2 linked regions of the Homo sapiens genome follow. The protein of the gene in region 2 purifies or fractionates together with the protein of the main gene of each other region. This does not show direct contact. Each region holds a gene or a part of one and is shown on either strand. Other genes may lie near its edges.

Region 1 (3,824 bases), on a different chromosome or scaffold from region 2:
CTTCCTGTAAATGTTTACTCTGCTCATCCTTTAAAGGAGTGACATAGAACGTATAGAGCCAGCACCTTAGAAGTGAACAGATGTGGTTTCACTTCTGGCTCTACTGCTTTTGAGATGTGACTTTGGGCAAGTTAGCCTGACTGAAGCTCTAGAGAGAATTAGGAACAGTAGCATCCACCCTATGAAATTGAGAATTAAATCAAGTAATACGCACAGTCTCTGGAACAAAGTAGGAACTCAGGCATTCTCTGTCCTTGTTTTGTAACCATAGAACCTACCTGGACTTTTCCACACGTACAAGTATTTGTTTGCCTGCTCTGGGCAGAGCCATGGTATGATCAACCTTCAATCAAATCATGGACCTGCTTACTCTGTGGCCCCAGATCTGGTGCTGACCTTGCCTGCTGCTGTTGGGCCCCTTTACAAAATATCTGACCTGGGATACTGGAGGGGAGGTAGCTACATATGCCTCTGCTCACTCCTGGGAGTAGTGTCAAAGATGGCATGTCCTATCATTTCCAGGCTGTGGCTTAAGATATAGCATCTTAGCATGACCAGGGACTCAAGATCAACCCACTCCAGGAATATAACAGACATGAAATATACTAAAAGGGTACATTCTGTACAGGGTGAGCTTCTTAAGTCTTCATAAAAGATGTCTGTGTTAGTACTTCCTCAATAGCTACAATTACTCAGTTACTCCCTCTGCATTCTAAGTAATCACTACTTAAAGCAATCACTGAGCTCAACAAATTGCCAAGAGTTTCATCAGAGACTGCAGAAAAGCTGCACTCTGATACCTGTATCTCTGACCTACTTCTGCAGGCTTACCAGAGTGATTTGACTATATTTAGTTTCAGTTATTTAACTTACATCAAGTTCTTCTTTTGACTCTAACAGCCTTTCGTGGTCTGCACAATCCACCAGAAATACAATGCCATTGATAGCAGGAAGGTAGTTTTTCCACACTCTTCGAGCTAACAAAAACAATCAGGGGTTAGAGTTTACTTGTTGGTCAAACCCAGCAGATGGTTTAAGCAAAGAGTCCAACCAGATATCAAGTGCGGTAATCCCTTAGCTGCTGGTACTTCACAATATATTCAAGTTAATCTTTTACCCAGTGGTGCCAAATTCTTCTGAGAATAACTAAGAGGGAATTTCAGGCTTTCCTTGACTGTGGGCAAGTCAAATACTTTAGTCTCTTCCAATTATCATATGTAAGGAGTAGAATATTTAAAATAAAAATAAAAATAAAAAAAAATACACGTTAAGTTCATTGGAGGACTGCTACTAGATCTAAAATATAAGCAGTAAAAAAACTACATATATGTGATTATATATACATAAAATGTGTGTATTTATATTACATATATATGCAGTGTTCATTTTTTGACATTTCTAGTTATCAGATTTTTTTTGCCAGTGATAAATTTGGAATGAGTGACAGAAGGAAATTAATATCAGGTACAAGCTTGTTAAAATAATAAGGCCGGGTGTGGTGGCTCACACTTGTAATCCCAGCACTTTGGAAGGCCAAGGCAGGTGGATTGCTTGAGCTCAGGAGTTCAAGACCAGCCTGGACAACATAGTGAAACCTCATCTCTACAAAAAAACACAAAAAATTAGCCAAGCCGGACACAGTGGCTCATGCCTGTAATCCCAGCACTTTGGGAGGCTGAGGCAGGTGGATCACCTGAGGTCAGGAGTTGGAGACCAACCTGGCCAACATAGTGAAACCCTGTGTCTCTACTAAAAATACAAAAATTAGCCAGGCTTGGAGAATCACCTGAACCCGGGAGGTGGAGGTGGCAGTGAGCCGAGATCATGCCACTGCACTCCAGCCTGGGTGACAGAGAGAGACTCCGTCTCAAAAAAAAAAAAAAAAAAAAAAAAAAATTAGAAAGTGTGGTGGTGTGTGCCTGCCCAGCTACTTGGGAGGCTGAGGTGGGAGGATGGAGCCCAGGAGGCAGAGGCTGCAGTAAGCCAAGATCATGCCACTGCACTCCAGCCTGGGAGACAGAACCAGACTCTGTTTCAAAAAAAATAATTAAAAAAAAACCAAAACAAAATTGTTTTACTCAGAAAAGAAGCTCAAATGTTAATAATTAACTGAAGTCTATGAAATCATAAGAGTAATTTTTTCCATAACATAACTTTCTTCACTGACTTGAGTTTTATGACATACCTTTTTTTTTTTTTTTTAAAGAGACAGGGTCTTGCTCTGTCATCCAGGCTAGTTCACTGCAACCTCAGACTCTTGAGCTCAAGTCATAGTCCCATCTCAGCCTCCTGAGTAGGTAGGACTATCAGTGTCTATCACTATGCCCCATTAATTGTTAAATTCTGTGTAGAGACAGGGTCTTGCTATGTTGCAAGGCTGGTCTTGAACTCCTGGCTTCAAGTGATCCTCCCAACCTCAGCCTCTCAAAGCACTGGGATTATAGGCCTGAGACCCCACACCCAGCCATTATGACATATCTTGAAACAACATAGAAATGAAGTCTCAGACAAATTCCATTAGATTCCAATTCTAATCATCGTATTCCAGAAATTATTTTGTGTATATGCCAGACAATTACATGTCTCAAATGTGCTTTCACTAGCCAGAACCATTTACAATCTTTTCAACTATATGTCGCATCAGGTTTTTAGAATGCCCACCAATTCGGTAATATTGGTTAGTTATGACTTACTATGAGGTAGATGTTGCCAAGTACTTTTGGGGATATAAAAAATGAACAGGCCAGGTGTGGTGGCTCACACCTGTAATCCCAGCACTTTGGGAAATTGAGGTAGGAGGATTGCTTGAGGCCAGGACTTCAAAATCAGCCTGGGCAAGATTGTGAGACCCCATCTCTACAAAAAAAATTTTTTTTAATTAAAACAAAACAAAAAACAGGATTTTAGTCCCCGCAAGTTTAATATAAGAGATAAGGCAGTCTTTCCAAACTTGTTGTAGACATGTACACAAATATACTAAGTGCTATGAAGTATAGCTGAGAGCACTCCAACTGAGAATGGCTTCCCAAGGGAGGTAGCAGGGCATACGCTGGGGCCTAAAGGGGTTACTCATGTGCGGATGGGGATGGCATGAACAAAAGCACAGAGGAAAACACCAAGAAGGTCTGATTTGGTTGAAGCAAAAAGAACGGGAAGGGGAATAGAGGGAAATAAAAGAAAAGTAGGCCAGATGTGGTGGCTCACACCTATAATCCCAACTTTTGGGAGACTGAGATGAGAGGATTGCTTGAGCCCAGGAGTTGGAGACAAGCCTGGGCAACATAGTGAGTGAGACCCTGTCTCTATAAGATAATTTTTAAAAGCCCAGAAAAGTAAACTGGGACCAGATCATAGAGATCCTGAATGCCAGGTTAATGAGTTTGGCCTTTATTTTGTAAGTAATGAGTTAGCCACTGAAGGTTTTTTTGTTTTGTTTTGTTTTGTTTTTGTTTTACAGAGCAGTAACATGTTCAAAACATGATTATGACAGTGAGAGGTAGATTGAAGTAGAGAGAATGGAAGTTAATTTTACTCATACACTTTACCACCAAAAGCAATTCTCATTTGAATTGGCCAGAAGTATCATGAAAATCACCCTTTGCTTTTAAAGTATTTATCGGGGAGTAATAATCCCTAAATTTTAAATCTACTCTGGCCTTGCGTGACTAGAATGAGATTTCATGCACTAGAACTAATGGCCACATTTTTGTTAAGTTAAAATAAAACAAAGTGACTGTAAGAGTAAGAGAATCTTACCTTGAACGTGGCGAAATCCCATCTCTACTAAGAATACAAAAATCAGCTGGGCGCGGTGGCACATGCCT
Region 2 (2,689 bases):
ATGCAAGGACTAAAGACATTTCTCTCACAGGTACCCAGGAAAGAGAGGAAGTAAACCCAGAGAGAACGTCCTGATGACAGCTGTGCAGCAAGCCTGGAGAGGGTACCTGGAAGCCATCTGAGAAAAACAATAGAGATTGGGTCCTGGAGACCTAACAGAAGTGATGCAGTCATATAGTGGAGAAGGTAAAAGGGACCCTGGTTCTCTCTGATGGAGATTCCACCCCCTTGGGGTCCTATTCAATGAGACACAAGCTCTGTGCAATTATGGAAAGTACTCAATACGGCTGGATGAATGAATGGGAGATCCAGGCCAAGAAAGAGACATCCTTTCCACAGTGCCTCATGGGGCTTCCTGCTCTGAGTCTCTCAGGAATGGGAGCAAGAATTCTCAAGCGCCTTACTATGCCCAGCAGAATCCTTTAGAACCCAGCCACTGCCAGGATCACCAGCCAGTCCCTTGGAAGAGGCAGTGACAGACAGACAGACAGTCTGGGTAGATGGCCAGGAGCAAATAAGACAAGACACACAGCAAATGTGGTTGAGGCTTTACTTCCATCAGGTAGGCCTAAGGCAGGGACCATGCTGCAGGAGCAGGGCCTGTAAACCAGTCAATGCTGCTCCTTCATGCAACACGGGGACAGCTCGGGGCTGAGCTCCACAGGCGAGGGGCCAGGCAGGCCCTTTAAAGCAGACACAACCACTAACAGGAAGGAAGGTCAGGCTGGCTTTAGTGCAGGGAAGGGTAATGATGGGAGGGGATGTTCACGAAGGATAGTGGGTAGCTGAGGCTTCAAAGGGCCTGCATGGGACAGGGGTTTAGGGGGAGTGAAGAGGGACAATGAAGTCTTGGGAGTAAAGATGGGAATAAACAGGAGAAAGGAACGAGGAGGCAGGTGCTGGGATGCAGAGTCCAGCTGCGCTGCACAGCCTGGGCAGCAGGCTGAGTATGGGCTCCTCACTCCCACCTCCTGGCCTTCAAGGCCCTACTTGTTGCCCCAGACAGCCATCTTTGTGAACACAGGTCTTGGGAGGAAGCGGCTGGACTTCATGTAGGCAGAGATCTTCTCCAAGCCCTGAGAGGGGGGAAAATAAGGCCAGAACTCAAGGTCAGCTGCCCATGAGGGCTGGCACAACCCCACTGCAGACACAGCAGGTCAGGGCCCTGGCCACAGCCTTTCCATGTGGGCTCAAGTGCTGAGGCATCACACAGCTTCTTAGGGTCCCCAGATCTGCGGAGTTAACTCTTCCAACTTCCTTTAAGTAATGTTGTACCACAGTAACAGCTAACACTTATGAAGATTCTACACGGTGCTGGGTGCTCTGTACCCAAGAGAAATTACAACGTAAGCTTAGAAAACCCACTCGACTACTCTGCAAGGCTGAATCTATTATCACCATTTGTCATGTGGGAAACAGAAGTTCAGCAACTTCCTTACATTTAAATACCTAGTAAGGGGAATAGAACTTCAATGTAGCCTGGTTCTGTCTCTCTCCAGTTCTGGCCTCTTTCTGCCAAATTCTCTTCTTCTTCTGCCCCACCACCCCTCACACCAGGCCCTGTCACTCCTTGACTGCACAAACAGTCTCCTTTTCCACAGGGAGGCTCTTGGCTTGTCTGGGTATAGAGACACAGAAGGGACCTCCAGCAGAACAAAGGGGCTCTGAACACACTCACCCAATGTCTCAGTAAAACCTGGATGAAAGTGGAATGGGGAGTGGCAGTGCACAAGAAAATCAAAGGCGAGACTAGGCTCTAATCATTCCCCTTAAAGCAGAAAGTCCAAGGTTCTCCATCTGGTATCTTAGCAAAATCTCACTGTGCCCTAACCCATGGCATCTCCAGCCCTGCTGCAGATCAGGCTACATGACACTCAGATGTGCTGTGCACAATCTTACCAGGATTGAATGCCCAGATAAGGTATTCAAAAACATCCGGCTCACACCTGTAATCCCAGCACTTTGGAAGGCCGAGACGAGTGGATCACCTGAGGTCAAGAGTTGGAGACCAGCCTGGCCAACATGGTGAAAACCCATCTCTACTAAAAATACAAAAATTAGCTGGTCATGGTGGCGGGCACCTGTAATCCCAGCTACTTGGTAGGCTGAGGCAGAGAATTGCTTGAACCCAGGAAGCGGAGGTTGCAGTGAGCCAAGATCGCACCAATGCACTCCAGCCTGGGTGACAGGCTTGACCCTGGCACATAACGGGCCATAGCTCTCAGCTCTCCTCCATCCCTCCCTTCCCACCACCTCTTACCTAACTCCAAGGCCACTCAGCCTGGACCAGAACCGCAGAACCAGAGCTGATGGGAACTAGCTGAGCAAGCAGATCTCTTGATGGGGAGTGGAAAAGGGAAACAGATTCAAGGCTCAGAAGCCTGTTGGACAAATGCCTCAAATCCCCAAATCTGTAGTAATGTAGGATTTGCTGCTCTCAAACAAGTTCAGCACACACTTCACAGGCTGCTCTGCCTGCAGGCCTCTCACTGCACTCATTTCCAGGATGGGGCTGTCATCTATGCATCTCCCACTGTGCCTCACACCCTGCCTCATGCAGAGGAGAAGGTCAGTGAACAGGAGTAAAATCAGCGTGCTACTCATCTCACAGGGGGAACACCTGGAACATTGGAGGGAAAAAAAGAGAGGAAGAGGCCAGGCGCGGTGGCTCACGCTTGTAATCCCAGCAC

Evidence for each region.
Region 1: the proteins of GSTM2 (region 2) and SAR1B purify together in Homo sapiens (co-immunoprecipitation; one large-scale study listed by IntAct). This does not show direct contact.

What each region holds. Positions count from the first base shown.
Region 1 is NC_000005.10:134,608,698-134,612,521, forward strand, and holds part of SAR1B (small COPII coat GTPase SAR1B), read right to left. Parts: intron 978-3,824; coding exon 874-977; intron 1-873. UniProt on the Homo sapiens protein: Small GTPase that cycles between an active GTP-bound and an inactive GDP-bound state and mainly functions in vesicle-mediated endoplasmic reticulum (ER) to Golgi transport.
Region 2 is NC_000001.11:109,673,133-109,675,821, reverse strand, and holds the end of GSTM2 (glutathione S-transferase Mu 2), read right to left. Parts: intron 1,076-2,689; coding exon 986-1,075; 3' UTR 536-985; downstream 1-535. UniProt on the Homo sapiens protein: Conjugation of reduced glutathione to a wide number of exogenous and endogenous hydrophobic electrophiles. Participates in the formation of novel hepoxilin regioisomers.